Linked DNA regions of Homo sapiens. The protein of the gene in region 6 purifies or fractionates together with the protein of the main gene of each other region. This does not show direct contact. Each region holds a gene or a part of one and is shown on either strand. Other genes may lie near its edges.

Region 1 (3,500 bases), on a different chromosome or scaffold from region 6:
ACCTCTGAAGTTAGCCCTGTTCGATCTCTGCTCCTTGTCAGACTACATTAAAGAATCTAGATGTCTTCTACACATTGTCCTTCTCTTCCTCACAGTGTCTGCCTTGATGACCAAATCAAAAATTGTTTTATTGCATTACTGCCTGAGTGTGTGATATTTTAGCAGAATCTGAGCCATGAGCTTCTTAAGTAAAGCCTTCTACTCACTGGTCACAGTCTAGCTTCTCTATGGCTTAAGAGTAAACCTGTTTGATAAAGCTATAAATGGCATTTATTCCTTCCTTCTTGCTGCTTAGAATCTCACTGAGTTTTTCTTCTACTCCAACTGAAGAAGGTGCCACATCTCACCTGTTGGTGGTTCTCACCTGGCTTTATATTAGCATCACTAAGGGGCTTTTACAAAACACTTGCTGAGACCCCATCTCCAGATTCTGATTTAACTGGTTCAGGGTGAGGTGTTACTATTATAAAAAACAAGCAAACAGAAATCCCTCCAGGGTATTGTAATGTGCAACCAGAGTTGAAAGCCCTTCCTGATGGAGTAAAGCTGCCATTCCGTTGTTTTACTGAACTTCTATTCTGGATCTCTGAAATCCACCAGCACGATTGAGGCTTTATTAGTGTGTCTGTCCCACAGCCCTGGTGAGGAGTAAGACAGAAGCTTGGTGAACCTTACGTGATATGAGATATGACCTGCTCCTGACAAAGGCCTGTACACCAATGCCGTGTTCACTCTGAGAGTCATTGTTTAATCAAGTGACAGAGGTTGAGTATCTGTTAATGTGGCACAGATACTGTGCTAGACGCCATGAGAACAATTTGACAAGGGCTTCATCCTTATGGAGGTTAGAGTTGATGACTCTGTTTTGGTTCTAGAAATGAATTCCTGTCCTGTGAGGATGCACCTGCTTGTCCCACAAGCAGGGCTGTCTTTGGTATACAGCTGGGCCCTACACCCTACTCTCCTGTGGGTAACATACTGTTCACTTCAACCTGCCCTGCTTGGCCAGATAATATTCATGGCTCAGATGAGGAATGACCAGGACCTTGACTTCTTCATCTACCAACCAGACTAGGTTACTCAGTAATACTAGTAGCATTGGTCGCCCCTGTGCCTTCTCTCTTAGTGAGCTTAGATGAGCCATGAACCTAGAGCCTAGAACTCTATTGGGCTGTCTGGTGAAGGGTAGACTTTAAAAGTTCAAGCCTAAAGGCAGCTGCAAATGGGCTGTTTCTGACCAGTTTTTTCTGACATACATCTCAGTCTCAACCTTAACCTTTTCACTCTAACTGAAGGCAGAGGAAGTAAGCATTGAGAAAATTCCATTAAGGAAGACGAAAGCTCGCCACCTTCCCTAAAGCCTGGGTGCAGTGAGGCCACAGAGACCACTTCCTGTCTCCCTTTCCCTGGGCCATTTTGTCTGCTAAGTCCTGGAGGCACTTCCCTCCCAAGTAGAGGTGAAGTCTCACCCCACCAGCTGCAGAGAGCGATTAAAGAGACCAAAGAAAACAGTTGAAAAAGAATACCAAAGTAGTAAGTGATCAAAAGGCTAGATCTAAGAGAGAGTTCTTTTCATAATTCCCCTACTCCTCATTTCTGTTGTCTAGGGCCTCACTAGATGCACTTGACCTATGTCCGTGTCCCTACCCCCTCATCTCCACAGAAGTCTGCAATATAGATTGCAGTAGGGTTGGCCATTTTTCAAGAACATTTTTCGCGTTCATTGAGAATTGACCTTCAGAATTGTGACTTATTTTTTCTTATCTCTGGAGTGATAGCAAGTAATCATTTTTTAAGAGTAGATTTGATTTTTCATACAACCAGAAATAATTCAGGATGTAATTTGGTGAATACCCTGTGTTGAGGTTGTAAATTTGATCTGAAGACAGTTTCCATGACAAAGTTCAGAAATACTTTGAGTAAAAGCAGCATTCATACATAATGTTGAGCACCTACTTTGACAGGCACTGCTCAGGGCACTGGGGATAAAGCAAGACTGGCATTCTATCTAGGGGAGAGGAGTTTACCAATTAACAAGTAATAAAACAACGAAAAATACTAAAGATGTTGCCAAAATAATACAATTTCTGGAAAGAAATACTCCGAAGAAGAATGGAGGAGGTGGGGAAGGGTGGAAGTGGCTGGTTTAGAGAGGGTGATTTAAGGTAGGCTCTGAAAAGGGGGCACTTGGGCAGAAGCCTTAGTTCTGTGAAGCACAAAGCCATGTCATGGTATGTTCTGGTAGTGGCAGCAATAAATGAAAGTTGCTGAGGGAGGAACAAGCTTGACGGGTTTCAAAAACACCAAAGGAGCAATGTAGGAGGTGCGGAGTAGAGGAGAGGGCAAATGGTAGGAGATGAGATTGGAGATGGAGGCTGAGATTCTGAGGCTTTTGGGAAGCAGCTGGGGGATGAGCCTTGCCGGAGTTAGTGTTTTGCCTTTTAGGGACATTATTTTGAAGGTAAAGACTAATTTGTATTTATGACTTAAGACACATGTTAGGCCAGTGTTAAAATGGGTGAAGGTGAGGAATAAATGCATATCCTTGAATATGCTTAGAATGTTTTTGCAAGAAGATCTGAGAAAGCAATGGCAGTGTTTCCTGGGTGATAGGTTGTGACACTGCTGTCAGGTCAAGAGAGGAAGGGGCACTTACATGTTAATCTCTTCTTTAGTAGTATTTGATTTTTTATCATATGCATGTATTTTTAGAAGCTTTTTCATAATATACCATATGTGTGTATATGTTTAAGGTTTGATTTTTTGCAGAAAGAGTATAGCTGCTGTGTTTGTGAAAACACAAAGAGATCTTTAAACCAGTCTCTCCTCTGAGATAATTTGATAAGTGATCGGAAGCTGCTTGGCATTTAGATTTCTGTGAAATCCAAGCATTGACACTTGAGTGTTTTCAGTGAGTGAAATGTGCTCTAATGTATAACACTTAATATTTTAATATTAATATTTTATTAAAATAAAATAACAGGTATTTAATATTAATATTTTAATAGATAATTTTTCTATTTCAAACTACATCTTTTGCTCTTTTCCCTAGGCAACAGAAACAGACACAAAAATCAGAGTGTGCACCCGGGCCTACCATCTGCTTGTGAAAAAACTGGGCTTTAATCCAAATGACATTATTTTTGACCCTAATATCCTAACCATTGGGACTGGAATGGAGGAACACAACTTGTATGCCATTAATTTTATCCATGCAACAAAAGTCATTAAAGTAAGTGTAGGCATGTTCTCTCCCAAGTCATGGCTCAAATTTGTCCCATGGGTCTAATGAATGGTTAGAACTAACTTATATATTTATTGGCTGATGAAATGTTAACATTCTTAGTTAGTAAATTGTTTTTCTGAAATGTAGGAGACCTTATTTTTTTTCTTTAGTAGAGTTTTAACTTGTGTAACAAACAGACTGGAGAACATAACAGAGCCTGATGAACTCGCTTGAACCCAGGAGGGTGGAGGTTGCATTGAGCTGGGATCACGCC
Region 2 (3,500 bases), on a different chromosome or scaffold from region 6:
TTTCAGTGCCTGGTCATCAAAACCTTCTTTTGATGGGAGCTCTCTGGGAAAGAGGTCTGGGCTTGGAAGTCAAACATCCAAGTTCAGATTAGAGTTATGATTATCTGTGAAACCTTGGACAAGCCCCATAACTTCTCTGAGATCTATTACATTTTTTTTTTGTAAAATGGAGTTAATAATTGTCAAAAGTCCAAGCCCCAGGACTCCAGTATACTTGATGAGATTGCTGAGAGTATTAAATAAATAACAGATCTGGACAGAGCTTTGCAAAGTGTAAAGGGCTGACAAGAGTTCATAGTTCTGCTCCTCATTCAATCCTCCTAATAACCCTAGAGGCAGCTACTACTATCCCTGTAGATATTGTGTAGATAGAGACATGCAACCCCTTAGCTTGTAAATTGAGAAATGGCTGTTCTATGGCAGGCAGTGTGAGCCCAGGACCTGTGCTCTTAATCCCACAGCATACCACTTAGTGTAGTTTACATAGTTTCTCATGCAGAACTTTATTCCTTTAGATTTCCTAATCAAGGTAAACTCTTGCCTGAAATATCTTATAAATGAGTGAAATCCAATAACTCATTGGACCAATAACTCAGTGGACCAGAAACATGTAATGCATTCATTTCATGTAGAATTATCCCCAGGAGCATGGATATTTGACAACTTCTGCCATTTGTTTCATCACATACTTGAAAACAAGCAAGGCTTCCTTAAAGAGCCTTGCTTCCACCAGTATTTATATGTGTTTCCCTTCTAGCAATGGGGACAAGTAGGCCCAAAGTGTGCCAGGTGTGCTGACTAGGGACAGGAGGAAGCCCTTTTGAGTTGTAAAATGTGTCACGGTACATCCACAGGGTGAATAATGAAGACATTGCCTGAATTTCCTAATTCTTTTCTCCTTGTAGCCAAATTTTATTCCAATTCTTACCTGGGAAGCAATCAAGTTAGGTTCTGTTTGGTAGTTGTTAACAGAAAGTTTAGCAAAGGGATAAACTTTAGGCTTTATAGCCTAAACTTTGGCAGATTGTCTTGTATAATGTATATTCTATAGACTTTTTGTTCTTTTACAATATATGTTCTTTTTCCATACAGACGTCCTCTCCTGTCACAGGTGGGAAAGAAACGGTAACTATATCACTTAAATTTATAAAATGGGGATAATAATAATGCTCCATCCATCTTGAGCATTTGTTTTGAGCTTTAAAGTTTGATAGGTGAACTGTCACTAAGCACAGAATCTGGCTCAAGAATTATTCTTGACCAGCTCCGCTCAAAAGTGAGGGAGAACATGCAAAATCACAGATGGATTTCACAAAGGGTTGAGCAAAAGAAGCCAGACACAAAGAGTGCATATCTTATATTTGCATCTATATTATGCTGAAAAACAGACAAAACTACTCTATGGCAATAGATTTCAGAATAGTGGTCACGCACAAGGAGGCTGGAAGAGATTTGAGGGGGATCCTGAGATACTGCTAATGTTCTGTTTCTTGATCTGGGTGTTGGTCTTATGGGTGTATTCCTCATGTGAAAAGTCATCCACTTATATATTTGTGATTCATATACTTTATTATTCTTCAATAAAATCAATTTCCCCCTAAAGTGAAGTGAAGGTGAATCCATTATTAAATAACAGTTGCACTTTTATAGGGTTTCTGCAGATTATCTTCAATATTTCCAGATAGTCTGCAAATCTGAAAACTTATGTAACTAAAAGCATGACTATTTCCACTCCGATCAAAGCAAAATGGGAATTTGAAAATTAATAGGTTAATGCATTTATTGCAAATAAATTTTTTTTGAAAGGCTAAATGTCACTTTTTTATTTATTTATTTTTATTATACTTTAAGTTCTAGGGTACATGTGCACAACGTGCAGGTTTGTTACATATGTATACATGTGCCACGTTGGTGTGCTGCACCCATTAACTCGTCATTTACATTAAGTGCAAATAAATTTTTTTAATTCATATTAAAATAGTGTGGTATGGCTGGGCATGGTGGCTCAAACCTGTAATCCCAGCACTTTGGGAGGCCAAGGCAGGCAGATCATGAGGTCAGGAGTTAGAGACCAGCCTGGCCAACATAGTGAAACCCCATCTCTACTAAAAATACAAAAATTAGCTGGGTGTGGTGGCATGCACCTGTAGTCCCAGCTACTCAGGAGGCTGAGGCAGAAGAATCGTTTGAATCCAGGAGGCGGAGGTTGCAGTGAGCCAAGACTGTGCCATTGCACTCCAGCCTGGGCAACAGAGCAAGACTCCATCTCAAACAAAAAAAAAAGTGTGGTGTATAATAAAAGCTTTTATTTTTAGCCAAACAGGTGAAAATGACATCTAATTGTTGCTCTGAATTGTATCTCAGCTTTTCCTACATTGAAGAGACATTTGTATTTCTGTTCTAAAGAATACCTGTTCATATCCTTTGCCCATTTTTCTACTTGATCATTACTCTTTCCAACAGATTTAAACTGTGTAAATTAAGTCCTATGAAAGTAAGTCATTTGTCATGTGTGTTACAAACATTTTTGCACAGTATTTCATTACCCTTTTGATTTTGTATATGACGTTTATGATCCATGCAGATTTTTTGTTTTATTTTTATTCTATTGAATTTTTCCTTTATTATTGAAGACTCTGGGCTTCCTCTGACCCTGTGTTTTTCATTCTGTGCCAGGACTGTGGGCCCTCTCTTGGATTAGCGGCGGGCATACCATTGCTGGTGGCCACAGCCCTGCTGGTGGCTTTACTATTTACTTTGATTCACCGAAGAAGAAGCAGCATTGAGGCCATGGAGGTGATTACTAGCTTCTTTGGGTCCAGATGTATAGGCAGCCACCAGTATTTCAGTGAACTGGCTTTTGGACTAAGGGTGTCAGAATTCAGGGCCCATGTCTATTTCCTGAGGACAAGATGCTGGAAGTTTCTGGGCCATAATTTCCACTGCAGACATGACATTAGGCACCAGACAGAGCTGATTTGTCATAAAACCTTCAGGTCAGTTGAGGAATTCCTGACAAAGATGGTATTTGGGGTAACAAAAAGTAGCAGTGGAGAAGGATGTCTGTTGCCATGGCAAACACATGTCTGTACAGTGGGTGTGCTTTCTAAAGTTGAGAAACAAAAGCGCACAAGCTTCACAAAGAAAGGATGGAGATAACGTTAAGAAAGATAGGAGATGAAGAGGGGCTGAGGTGTCCATGATAGACACCATGATAGAATCACAAGGGAATCTATATCCTCCCCATCCAATCCACCCCTCCAATGCCAGACTGTTCTGGGGACTATGCTTAGAAATCAAAAGCCACCTAGACTCATATCCAACAAGGTTCCATGGTTGTGACACAACTGTGTCATGTGGACTCTGGGTTCTAATTCTATTCTCTATTTATTGACATTCAAGGTTGTTATCATATGGGTAAACATTAATTAAGAGATTGAAAATTGAGGTTCTAAACCTGACTCTGCCACTTTATGATTTATATGATCCTGGACAAGTGA
Region 3 (3,500 bases), on a different chromosome or scaffold from region 6:
TAACAAACCCTCGGCTGGGCACGGTAGCTCACGCCTGTAATCCCAGCACTTTGGGAGGCCAAGGTGAGTGGATCATGAGGTCAAGAGATTGAGACCAACCTGGTCAACATAGTGAAACCCTGTCTCTACTAAAAATACAAAATTAGCTAGGCATGGTGGCGCATGCCTGTAGTCCCAGCTACTTGGGAGGCTGAGGCAGGAGAATCGCTTGAACCCAGGAGGAGGAGGTTGCAGTGAGCCAAGATCGTGCCATTGCACTCCAGCCTGGCAACAGAGTGCAACTCTGTCTCAAAAACAAAACAACAACAACAACAAAAAAAAAAAAACCCACAAAGCCTCAAGCCTCAATCTCTTTGACCTTTCCAAAAAGGACTAATGTCCCAATCTTTTAATCACATGCTATTTTCCAAATCCTTTTTCCCACTAATTTATTCTTTAAGTGTTTGCTGAGCACTTACTGCACACCTGACACCGTGCTAAGCACTGGGGATACAACGGAGCAGGGTGGAGGAAATATTTGTCTTCATCTTTTAAAATATGCAACCTAAAAATCAAGTTCTGTTCTATTAAAAGCTCAACTCAGGTTTAACTGAAGGACATCTTCTTCATTCATATATATTATAACCCCTCAGGTTTTTTTTCGGAGACAGTCTCACTCTGTTGCCCAGGCTGGAATACAGTGGCATGATCTGGGCTCACTGCAGCCTCTGCTACCTGGGCTCAAGCGATTCTCCTGCCTCAACCTCCTGAGTAGCTGGGATTACAGGCACCTGCTGCCACGCCTGGCTAATTTTTGTATTTTTACTAGAGACAGGGTTTTACCATGTTGTCCAGGTTGGTCTCAAACTCCTGACCTCAAGTGATCTGCCCACTTTAGCCTCCCAAAGTGCTTGGATTACAGGTGTGAGCCACCATGCTCGACCTCTTATATATTATATATTTGATATTAAATGTTAATATTGTAAGATGCTTCCTCTTAAATATTAAAATTATTTCTTTGAACACTCAGTTTCAAAGGTCTTCTAAATTTTATTTACACTACATTGGAAATATTCCCTTCCTGCCTAGCTTTTTCTTATTTGAGCAAATTCTCAATTTCATCATTTAAATACTGATTCCAAACTAGACAATTATCATAACTGCCTGAGTGGCTTTAAAGAAAAAAGTCCCAAACCCCAGACTTTTGTCTTTTGATCAGGGTTTCTGTTGATCAGCCATATTTAAGAATTAAGCTCAACCATTTAAGCTGACTAAATGGTAACTTACATAATTTGTAAATGAAAAATATGTGGAACTAAAAATGTGTTTGATTTATCTTCAAAATATGTATTTGAATCGTCCTATAATTAGCTACAGAACACGTACCAACCTGTAGATTTCAGTTTTTAAAAATTAGTGTTGCTTTGTTACAGGTCACATATTACCTTTGCTAAAAGATGCAAGTTAATTTCCAAATGAATTTCAAGAATCCTAAGAATCCTAAGTACCTTTTTAACATAATGAACGAAAAAGCCACCTGCGTATTCCACTCGTTCTCTGAACCGTATCTAACAAAAAACCTTTCTAAAAACCACAGACAGTTAGGGACAGTCAGGTGTGTCAAGCATTATGACCACGTATGAAAATATTGGGTGTTTGTTTTTGTGTGGTTTGGTTTTTTGCTCTATATGTCAACTATAATATAACAAAGATGTTGACAATATAACACTACAATATAACAAAGATGGGTAAGTGGGTAAAATTAGTGTAATAGAAGCTTCAAACACTGGTGCCTTCTGATTTCTAGGTTAAATTTTCCCCCTTCTGTGCATAAAATAATAGTTTACATTTATTTAGTGCCTACTAAGTGTCAACTACCATTTTAAATATCTCATAAATCCTCATAACAACACAAATAGCCAAGTACAATTAGCCTAATTTACTGATGAGGATACACAGAGAGGTTATGTAACTTTCCCAGTTCCATAGCTAGTAAGTAGTGGCACAGGATTTGTACCTAGGCAGTCTGACCCCATAGCCTGCATTCTTAACAGCATGTGTTTAACATTTATAGAATTAATGTCTTGAAAAATAGATTCAAATCTATCTATCCAAATAGATACATCTATCTATAGAGATACATATACAAACATATACAGAACAAGAGTGCTGTATAGGTATCACCCATTATATTTAAAGATCAAGACAATAACTATTTGTTCAGTTAGACTACAGGGCAATCATTTTCATGACCACTGTCCTTACCAACCAGCAAATATTTTCTAGTTTGCTGTGTTCAACTGATCTCCCAGGTGGAATTAACAAAAAGCTTTCTACAGCTGATCTATTAGTGGCAACTCTGTCACGTTTGATGTAGCTGAGGGCAGGGCCAAACTGGGAGCAGCACTGTGAGTTCCACCTGGCTGACTCGGGAGTGAGTCCACAGCCTAGAGGATCAAACTCTTCATGCAGCGGCTCATTTTGTACAATCAGATAAATCTCTCAATTGAAAGCAGAGTTGCTACAGCTTTCACTCATTTTTTGACTACAGCTGCAATTTTACTTATTCTGCTGACCTTGTAAGACTAGTCAGACAAGTCTTACTTGGCCATATCAAACTAAAAGTCTGTTTAAAAATAGAAAATGTTGGCTGGGCGTGGTGGCTCATGCCTGTAATCCCAGCACTTTGGGAGGCTGAGGCAGGTGGATCACAAGGTCAGGAGTTTGAGACCAGCCTGGCCAATGTGGTGAAACCCCATCTCTACTAAAAATACAAAAATTAGCTGGGCGTGGTGGCTGGCGCCTGTAATCCCAACTACTCAGGAAGCTGAGGCAGGAGAATCGCTTGAACCCGGGAGGTGGAGTTTGCAGTGAGCTGAGATCGCGCCACTGCACTCTAGCCTGGGTGACAGAGTGAGACTCTGTCTCAAAAAAAAAAAAAAAAAAGAAAAAGAAAAAAAATGTTCTAATATATTGGAAATAAAAATCTGGCAGAATTAGATGCCATTGTTGCAGCAGAAAACTTGTTTATAGATAGTAATCTAAACTAAAACATTGAGAACATCATATTTAGTCTCAGTAATTCCAACACTTATCTTCTACAACTGATCTTCTTCAATGTATAAGTTAAAGTTATTCAATATCCTGTAAAACAAGAAGGAACACTGCACTATAGGATGTGAATGCTCTTGGAGGCAATGCCACGTACCTCTTCTGCTGTCCAGAAGGAAGCCTGTGCCTGTTTATACATTTTCCAAATATCAGGGTACTGGATTGGAAAGATGACAAACCGGCGAGAACTCTTTCTTAGGAGTGGCTCTTCATTTGACTTTATTTCACTTTCGTTGGTGTCTGAAGATGATCTCTTTGAAAAATAAAGTACAAACACGCCTTTTATATAGACATTTCTTCTTTATTCATACCTAAACATACATCTAAGGAAGTCAGGGAGACGGCATTGGTTTGAGAGCCTGTCTGCCTGGGTTGAATCCTTACTGTTACCTGGTAGCTGACTAATACTG
Region 4 (3,500 bases), on a different chromosome or scaffold from region 6:
CAATAAACCGGACCCCTGCATCCTGGCAGGCCTGGGCGAAGTCCGCTCGCTCAGAGAGGAACCCGTAGCCAGGGTGCACTGCATCTACGTTGTTCTCCTGCAGGTGGGGGTCAGGGAGAGGACGGTACCTTGCAGTCCCTTCCAAGGCCTCGGCCAGCCTCTTCCCCTGCCTAACCTGCTGAGCTGCATCCGTTTACCCACCCACGCACAGAGGCGCTGAGCACGCCAGCCTCAAGAGACCCCCGCGGCAACTAAGACTCCCTGGTCCCTGCTGTCCAGGCCCAGCCAGGCCACTGGGCTCACCTTGGCCACCTTGATGATGTCTGGGATGTGCAGGTAGGCCTGCACGGGGGCCAGGCCGCGGCCGATGAGATAGGCTTCATCTGCTTTCTGCCGGTGCATCTGGCCCGTGTCCTGCTCAGAGTAGATGGCTACGGTGCGGATGCCCAGCTCCGTGCAGGCCCGGAACACACGGATGGCAATCTCACCTAGAGGGCAAAGAAACAAGAAGTTAGATTCCTAGGTCCTAGGAGAAGCAGAAAGGGGAGTGGGAAGCCAGGGCCTGGGGCAGTGAGTGGGAGAAGAATGCCAAGGCTGGGGCGGCCATGAGGCTCCTCTCACCGGCCCCACTGGTGCTCACCTCTGTTGGCCACCATGACTTTCTTGATGGGCTTATACTCCAGGCGCCGGACATTTGGGGAGGCAGCGGGGGCGGTGGAGGTTCGGCGGATTCCCAGGAGCCTCAGGCCCCCATGGACTGTTCGGAACTTCAGCATCTAGGGAGGGAAGTTAGAGCCCAGGTTAGCGCAGCCTCAGCACTGAGGCTCCTCAGAATGAGTGAGGGCCCTTCCCAACCCCACAGTGGCCCCACAGAAAGGCTAGCACCATCTACCTCCTGATGCCTGGCCAAGCCCAACATTTCCTGGCTCTAGAGAAGGGAGCAAATCCAACCCCAAATGGAACCCCCAGCTCAGCCTGATATCCTAACTGTGACTTTATTGTTGTAGAGACAGGGTCTCCCTATGTTGCCTAGGCTGGTCGCAAATGATCCTCCCACCTCAGCCTCCTGAGTAGTTAAGACTACAGGTGTGAGCTGCCGTACCCAGCATAATATGCACTATAACTTTTAAAAGTATCAGGTTGGCCCACCCTGGCTAACACGGTGAAACCCCGTCTCTACTAAAAATACAAAAAAAAAAAAATTAGCCGGGCGTGGTGGCGGGCATCTGTAGTCCCAGCTACTTGGGAGGCTGAGGCAGGAGAATGGCATGAACCCAGGAGGCAGAGCTTGCAGCGAGCCGAGATCGTGCCACTGTACTCCAGCCTGGGCGACAGGGCAAGACTCCGTCTCAAAAAAAATAAAAGTATCAGGTTGGGCGCGGTGGCTCATGCCTGTAATCCCAGCACTTTGGGAGGCTGAAGTGGGAGGAGCACCTTACATCAGGAGTTCGAGACCAGCCTGGCCAACATGGTGAAACCCCGCCTCTTACTAAAAATATAAAAATTAGCCGGGCATGGTGGCACACGCCTGTAATTCTAGCTACTCAGGAGGCTGAGGCACGAGAATCGCTTGAACCTAGAAGACAGAGGTTGCAGTGAGCTGAGATTGCGCCACTGCCCTCAGCCTGGGTGACATCAAGACTCTGTCCCAGGAAAAAAAAAAAGTATAATACTTCAGGTTGGGCACGGTGGCTCACACCTGTAAACCCAGCACTTTGGGAGGCCAAGGCACATTTGTGTGAGCTCAAGAGTTTGAAACCCACCTGGGCAACATGGTGAAACCCTGTCTCTACAGAAAATATAAAACTTAGCCAGGCATGGTGGCACATGCCTGTAATCCCAGCTACTTGGGAGGGTGAGGCATGAGAATCACTTGAGCCTGGGAGGTGGAGGTTGCAGTGAGCTGAGATGGCACCACTGTACCAGTCTGGGTGACACAGCAAGACTCCATCTTTAAAAAATATATATATATTATATATAATATATTATATATAAAATATAAAATATTATATATAATATAATATAAATATATATAATATATTATATATATTATATATTATATTATATATAAAATATATATTATATATAATATAATATATAATATTATATATATTATATAATATTATATATTATATTATATATTATAATATATATTATATATAATATTATAATATTATATAATATTATATATATATTTAAATCAACTGACGACAACTTATATCCCTGAATGCAAAGAGGCTTCAGAGGTTGGCCAGCCCTTCATTTGTAAAATGAAGGAAACCAAGGTACAGTGGAGACTAAAAAGACAGCTGCCCAGCACAGAGCCCAAGCCAAACCAGACACACTCTTTTCACCCCTGCATCTGGGCCTCATCTAACCATCTGATTCATTTCTTTCTTTTGAGACGGAGTCTCGCTCTTGTTGCCCAGGCTGGAGTGCAATGGCATGATCTCTGCTCACTGTAACCTCTGCCTCCCAGGTTCAGGCAATTCTCCTGCCTCAGCCTCCCAAGTAGCTGGGATTATAGGCATGCACCACCATGCCTGGCTAATTTTGTTTTTGTTTTGTTTCTTTTCTTTTTTCTTTTTTTTTTTGAGACAGAGTCTTGCTCTGTCACCCAGGCTGGAGCGCAATGGTGCGATCTCGGCTCACTGCAACCTCCGCCTCCTGGGTTCGAGTGATTCTCCTGCCTCAGCCTCCCGAGTAGCTGGAATTACAGGCACCCGCCACCACGCCCAGCTAATTTTTGTATTTTTAGTAGAGACAGGGTTTCACCATCTTGGCCAGGCTGGCCTCGACCTCCTGACCTCAGGCGATCCACCTGCCTTGGCCTCCCAAAGTGCTGGGATTACAGGTGTGAACCACCACGCCTGGCTGTATTTTAAATAAAGATGGGGTTTCACCATGTTGGCCAGGCTGGTCTTGAACTCCTGACCTCAAGTGGTCTACCCGCCTCGGCCTCACAAAGTGCTAGCATTACAGGTGTGAGCCACCACACCCGGCCGATCTGATTCATTTCTTAGAAAACGTTTAAAACACTTGACTCAGCCATTTTGTTTTAAGTAAGGAACATAAAAACATACTCAAGAAATGAAACAAATATTGCAAAAACCTTAGTGCCATATTACAGCCAACAACCTAGAAAAGGGGAAATAAAGACAGAAGAAAAAGAAAAGAGAAGAAACAAGGAAATAAGTAGAAGAAAGAGAAGAGGAGGAGGAGGAAAGACCCACAGCCAGGGGAGAAAAACAGAAAACCCCACTAGGGGCAGACCTTATGCCAGGCACAGTTCTAAGCCTTAGGAGTCGAGAACACAACAGTGAAGGGTTCTGCTCATGGAAGATGAATGGCAGTGAAAGGAGCAAAGAAAAGAAAAACAAGACACAAATCAGAACATTTCAGATCACAAGTGCCTGGAAGATAAGAAACAGGTGACATTTTGCGAATGATCTGGGGCGGGTGCAGGGGTTTGGGGGCTGGATATTAGAAAAGGCCTCTCT
Region 5 (2,865 bases), on a different chromosome or scaffold from region 6:
ATGGCTTGGTGCCCCCTGGCAGGAATGAGTGTGTTCTCACTCTATGACCTGGTTGTTTCAAGGAGCCTGGTCCTCCCCACTCTCTCTTGCATCCTCTCCCGCCATGGGACACGCCTGCTTCCCCTTCGCCTTCTGCCATGAGTAAAACCTTCCTGAGGCTTCCCCAAAAGCAGACGCAGGCACCATGCTTCTTGTCCAACCGGCAGAACCGTGTGCCAAATAAATCTTTTTTCTTAAACAAATTACCCAGCCTCAGGTATTCCTTTATTGCAACACAAAACAGACCGACACAACCTACTTTGCAGAAGTATTGCAATGTTCAGAAACGGTTCTCTCTCACCCCTCACTAAATGGTGCTTTTTGGTTCAAGGTTGTATAGAATGGTACAATTTAAGAAACCAAGGATCTAAGATTTTGCCTAAAAAAAACTGAATCGAATGAAGAATTCGCTCATATTTTTCTACTAAAAATTGAAATACTACAAGGAAACAAAACCAAAACCACATTCAGTTCTTTTATTTAATTTTCTAGTGGACAATTTACATATCTCCCTCACCCTGTCTTTTAAGTTAGTGTGACAATTTTCCATAATAAACTACTTAAAGAGAAGCTTTGGTCAAGAATGGAATGAAATCGCAAAAAAACAAACAAAAAAATTACTGCCTTAAAAAAACCAACACTTTCACCAATTTTATATTCAAACAAAACCACACGGCATTGGCGTGATATGTGTTTTCAGTGTTTCCTTGGGGCTGGCTTCCTCGCCATCGTGCCACGGCACAGCTGCGGTCGGCCACAGTTTGTCATGCTGGATGGCGGAGGCTCACTCAGCTTCACATTATCCGGAGGCCCTGGATGGAAGACTCGAGGGTCTTGGAAAAGGTGGGAAGAGCACTGATGTCACTGAGGAGTGTCTACCCCGAGGTAGGTATGACACCACTCCCTCTTCCTCAGGGAAGGTTCTGCCTGTCCCCACCCTGAACCTGGCCCTGCCCCACCTGAAACAGGATCTCCCAGGACTCACCCCGCAGAGACACTCCAGGCCGGGGCTCCCCCTGCTGGCTCCTCCAGGCCAGGTGTGCCTTTTCCCCACTGCCACACACACAGGCTCTGGGCACACTCCTCACTCCTCTTTTTTTTTTTTTTTAAAGATAGGGTCTTGCTCTGTTGCCCCAGGCTGGAGTGCAGTGGTGTGACCACAGCTCACTGCAGCCTCCAACTCCTGGGCTCAAGTGATCCTCCTGCCTCAGCTTCTCAAGTAGCTGCAACTAAAGGCATGCGTCACTGCACCTGGTTTTTAAAAATATATATATGTATATTTTTAAATAGAGACAGGATCTCACTGTGTTGCCCAGGCTGGTCTCGAACTCCTGTGCTCAAGACAGGAAAGCAGTGAGGAGAAACGAGCCTCAGCTTCCCAAAGTGCTGGGATTACAGGAGTGGGTCAGTGCGCCTGGCTGCACCTGGCTTTTTTATAGAGATGGGGTCACGCTATGTTGCCCAAACTGGTCTCAAAACTCCTGGCCTCAAGCGATTCTCCCACCTCGGCCTCCCAAAGTGCTGGGAAGACAGGCATGAGCCACTGCGCCTGGCTACCTAGAGCTCTTTTTTCTAGCTCCATCTGTGCTTCCGGAGGACCACAGCACGGGCAGCGCCTCAGAGGCAGTGTGCGCTCTCTGAAGCCCAGGGCTGCCCTGGGTGTGCTGCACTTGCAGCCGAGGATGCTCGCCTGTGTCTTCTCAACTCACAGTCCCTCCCTCCAAAACCCATCGCAACTCAGGATGCCGCTCAGGTGCAACCTGTTCCCTGCAGTCCACGCATCCCCCTAGATTCCTCTGTGTGAAAACAGAGGCACTGGCTTCTCTTCTGAGCTCTGCCGAATCCCCTACCCAGCCCCCGTATCCACCTCTCTCTTCTACCAGACAGGCTCATTCAGATTGGATATTCTCAGTGCTCAGCATCATGCATGGCACCCAGGAGATATGTACTAAATGTTTATTAAATTAATTAGTGTCAGCTATAAATATATATCTATATAGTTAAACCTGGGCTGGTGTCCAATAGGGCCTGTTTCCAAAACAGCACTCCATTTTTCCTCAATGAATAAATGGACATCTAGAAGTAAAAATTCCAGTTCACTGAGAATGTGCCGTTCTTCTGCGGATGACTTTTAGGTTTTAAAGAGATCTCTGGCTGGGCGCAGTGGCTCACGCCTGTAATCCTGGCACTTGGGGAGGCTGAGGCGGGTGGATCACCTGAGGTTGGGAGTTCGAGACCAGCATGTCCAACGTGGAGAAACCCCATCTCTACTAAAAACACAAAATTAGCTGGGCGTGGTGGCACATGTCTGTAATCCCAGCTACTTGGGAGGCTGAGGCAGGAGAATCGCTTGAACCCCAGAGGCGGAGGTTGTGGTGAGCCGAGATTCTGCCATTGCACTCCAGCCTGGGCAACAAGAGCGAAACTCTGTCTCAAAAAAAAAAAAAAAAAAAAAGAGAGAGATCTCCAAGGCTGGCATGGTGGCTCACGCCTGTAATCCCACCACTTTGGGAGGCCAAGGTGGGCAGATCACATGAGGCCAGGAGTTCAAGACCAGCTTGGCCAACATGGTGAAACCCCGTCTGTACTAAAAATACAAAACATAGCCGGGTGTTGTAGTGTGCTCCTGTAATCCCAACTACTTGGGAGACTGAGGCAGGAGAATCGCTCCAACCCGGGAGGCGGAGGTTGCAGTGAGCCAATATTGCACCGCTGCACTGCAGCCTGGGTGACAGAACAAGACTCCATCTCAAAAAGAAAGAAAAAAAAATGAGAGATTTCCAGTTTAATGTCTTACATTAGGACATTAAACTGTATACTAGATTT
Region 6 (2,498 bases):
CTATTACAACATACACAATCACAAGTACATGGCAAACTCTAAAAACTATGTTATTAGTGATTTGTATTCATTCAGTAGATACCTATTGAACATATACCATATAGTACAGTTGGTAATAAAGGTAGGACGGGTTGTCAATGGGTGTTTAATACATAGTGATAAGCTATATTCAATTAAAAAAACCTTCAATTTGATTTCTTACGAAGTATACAGCTCTCCTAACTTCGAATTCTCCCTTTGAAAGCAAGCGTTCATTGTTTGAAATAGCTCTGTCTGTCCCTACTACTGTTTACTGACATTTTCTACATTTTAGCATCAGACCAAGTTTTAGAAATTTTTATAACTTGATTATCTTCTCCTTCCACCAAGCTGCCAAATGACTTGTTTATTTTGCCTCTCAGTTTGTCCAGATAAAGTTTATGGCTCACACAAATCTAGCCAGGTACATACCAGTAACTCCAAAGGGGGAAAGAGGTGAGTAAAAAAAGAAAAGCTGGAAGTCTTTTAATGTTAACATTTTATTTAAACCAGTACAAGCACCATGCTTAACAAAAGACTGTCCAAAATAAACATGCAATATGAACTAGCAGAGACTGAAACCACAGCTTAAGGAGTTGTGTCAGTTGTTGGTTTTGTTAAACGATGACAGAGAACTGTTAAAATTCACAAGACTAAACCATTAATGTTTCAAGCCTCCTGAATGAGATTATCTTGGACCATCTAAATCAGTGGGAACTGCCCTGGCATGTTAATGATCTCAAACAATATTCAAGTAATTATATTTATATGAATTATAATCCAAAAAGCAATAAAATACAATTTCTATCACAAGTTTACTGTATATGAGCACTGATTTGAAATGTCAAATGGCATAATAAAAACAAATTTCTCAAGAATATTCAGCTTGGGAGCATTGGTTTTAAGCGGTCTAGAAGATTACTACATTCTTCCAGAAATACAAAATAAGATTTGTCCAGAAATGTTTGAAACACATCCTCACAAAAGTTGTAATGGCTCAAACTCTATAAATTCCAGTATTATCAGTCTATTGAACAAATAGGGAAAGCAACCATAGTAAGAATACTTGAATTGATAGAATATGAGTTACTCTCTACTTCCACCAAATATCAGCATTTAAACTCTTATGAAAATATCTATTCATCACTAGTCCACATATGGATTAATGACATTGCTCAGGTTTTAAAAGCAGTCCAAACATTTTTTAAGTACACCTTCCTTAATATCTATATGGGTTGGGGGGAACAGCCAAATTTAATTTGGCAATAAACTCCCCTAACTGGAAATTTTTAGCTAAAGTGTCAGACAAGGATACAGTTTATGGCTACATTTGACTCCTGAAAATAGGAGATAAAAAAGGAGGGAAAAGTGCTGACACACATTTTGCCACACAGATTATTTAGTAATGACAGTAAAAAATTTAGCAACACACACTTAAACAAGAGTATGTTTAACTGCACTAGGCATTTAGTAAACTTTTAGAACTAGACAATTTGAACATTTTAGAAGTCAATTAAACAAAAACAGTCAACCAACTTTTTTCCTAATATAATTGCGTCAATACCAGAACAAAGTGATCACTATTCAAAACTCAGACATTTTGGAATTTCAGCATAGTAACCTGAGAAGTTTTCTTCGTATGTATTTTTGTTGTCATGGAAACCACACTAAATAATACTGTGATTACCAGTTGGTTCTATTTTGACATTAGATGCTATGCAGAACTTATGCAGGGCCAAAAATTTCAAAACTAACACTGACTTAGAAGACCACGAAGGAGGATCCCAGGAAAAAAGTTGCTGCTAAAAAGGACTCAGATTTAAGGCTGAATGGGAATGGTTGTACCAGAAAGATAACGGAATGTAAAAACTGGAATTATGAAATCTGGAGTTATTATTTGGGAAATGGCAGAAAAAAAGACAGTAAATACGAAACATACTTGAAAAGAACAATGCAAAATTTAGTAAGATGAAAGGGAAATCTATATAAATGTTTGAGAACATTTTAGAGCACGGGATTTGTAAATTTCCCCATAGGACAGATGGAATAAAAATGTCCTACTGATCCTCTAACCTCAATCTGTTGTCTTGCCAAAAACATGTTATTAATTAGGAGTCAGACAAGCTCAAAAAAGCATGGTTTATCACAGCTCTTTGCTCCTGTTAAAGACAGTAGCGGAACTAAGAGTGCTAACGTATGGCAGGTCAATATTATCTGACATTATGGAGGACCTCCAAATTTAAAAATAAGCAAAACTAAAACATGCAAGACAAAATAAGGAACTTCATTAAAAAATACATTCTTGCAGCACTAGTTTCTCTTACTGCTGCAAAACAGGTGAAACAAAACCTCATTTCCTTCATTCAAAAACATTAAAAACACTCTCCACTCACTTGGATTACATGTGCATTCCTACAGAATTATATGCATGTTATTCTCCAATATCAAAATACCTGTTTAAAGAATTTTTAAACTTCCTG

The links.
Region 1: the proteins of GMFB (region 6) and MTR purify together in Homo sapiens (co-immunoprecipitation; one large-scale study listed by IntAct). This does not show direct contact.
Region 2: the proteins of GMFB (region 6) and OPALIN purify together in Homo sapiens (co-immunoprecipitation; one large-scale study listed by IntAct). This does not show direct contact.
Region 3: the proteins of GMFB (region 6) and RRM2B purify together in Homo sapiens (affinity purification with mass spectrometry; one large-scale study listed by BioGRID and IntAct). This does not show direct contact.
Region 4: the proteins of GMFB (region 6) and PC purify together in Homo sapiens (co-immunoprecipitation; one large-scale study listed by IntAct). This does not show direct contact.
Region 5: the proteins of GMFB (region 6) and ARPC1A purify together in Homo sapiens (co-immunoprecipitation; one large-scale study listed by IntAct). This does not show direct contact.

The regions. Positions count from the first base shown.
Region 1 is NC_000001.11:236,847,292-236,850,791, forward strand, and holds part of MTR (methionine synthase), read left to right. Parts: intron 1-3,052; coding exon 3,053-3,232; intron 3,233-3,500. UniProt on the Homo sapiens protein: Catalyzes the transfer of a methyl group from methylcob(III)alamin (MeCbl) to homocysteine, yielding enzyme-bound cob(I)alamin and methionine in the cytosol. MeCbl is an active form of cobalamin (vitamin B12) used as a cofactor for methionine biosynthesis.
Region 2 is NC_000010.11:96,349,003-96,352,502, reverse strand, and holds part of OPALIN (opalin), read left to right. Parts: intron 1-1,092; coding exon 1,093-1,125; intron 1,126-2,676; coding exon 2,677-2,796; intron 2,797-3,500. UniProt on the Homo sapiens protein: Central nervous system-specific myelin protein that increase myelin genes expression during oligodendrocyte differentiation. Promotes oligodendrocyte terminal differentiation.
Region 3 is NC_000008.11:102,228,962-102,232,461, forward strand, and holds part of RRM2B (ribonucleoside-diphosphate reductase subunit M2 B), read right to left. Parts: intron 3,344-3,500; coding exon 3,188-3,343; intron 1-3,187.
Region 4 is NC_000011.10:66,871,384-66,874,883, forward strand, and holds part of PC (pyruvate carboxylase, mitochondrial precursor), read right to left. Parts: intron 777-3,500; coding exon 641-776; intron 489-640; coding exon 304-488; intron 98-303; coding exon 1-97. UniProt on the Homo sapiens protein: Pyruvate carboxylase catalyzes a 2-step reaction, involving the ATP-dependent carboxylation of the covalently attached biotin in the first step and the transfer of the carboxyl group to pyruvate in the second.
Region 5 is NC_000007.14:99,363,898-99,366,762, reverse strand, and holds the end of ARPC1A (actin-related protein 2/3 complex subunit 1A), read right to left. Parts: intron 873-2,865; coding exon 834-872; 3' UTR 501-833; downstream 1-500. UniProt on the Homo sapiens protein: Probably functions as a component of the Arp2/3 complex which is involved in regulation of actin polymerization and together with an activating nucleation-promoting factor (NPF) mediates the formation of branched actin networks.
Region 6 is NC_000014.9:54,473,985-54,476,482, forward strand, and holds the end of GMFB (glia maturation factor beta), read right to left. Parts: 3' UTR 501-2,498; downstream 1-500. UniProt on the Homo sapiens protein: This protein causes differentiation of brain cells, stimulation of neural regeneration, and inhibition of proliferation of tumor cells.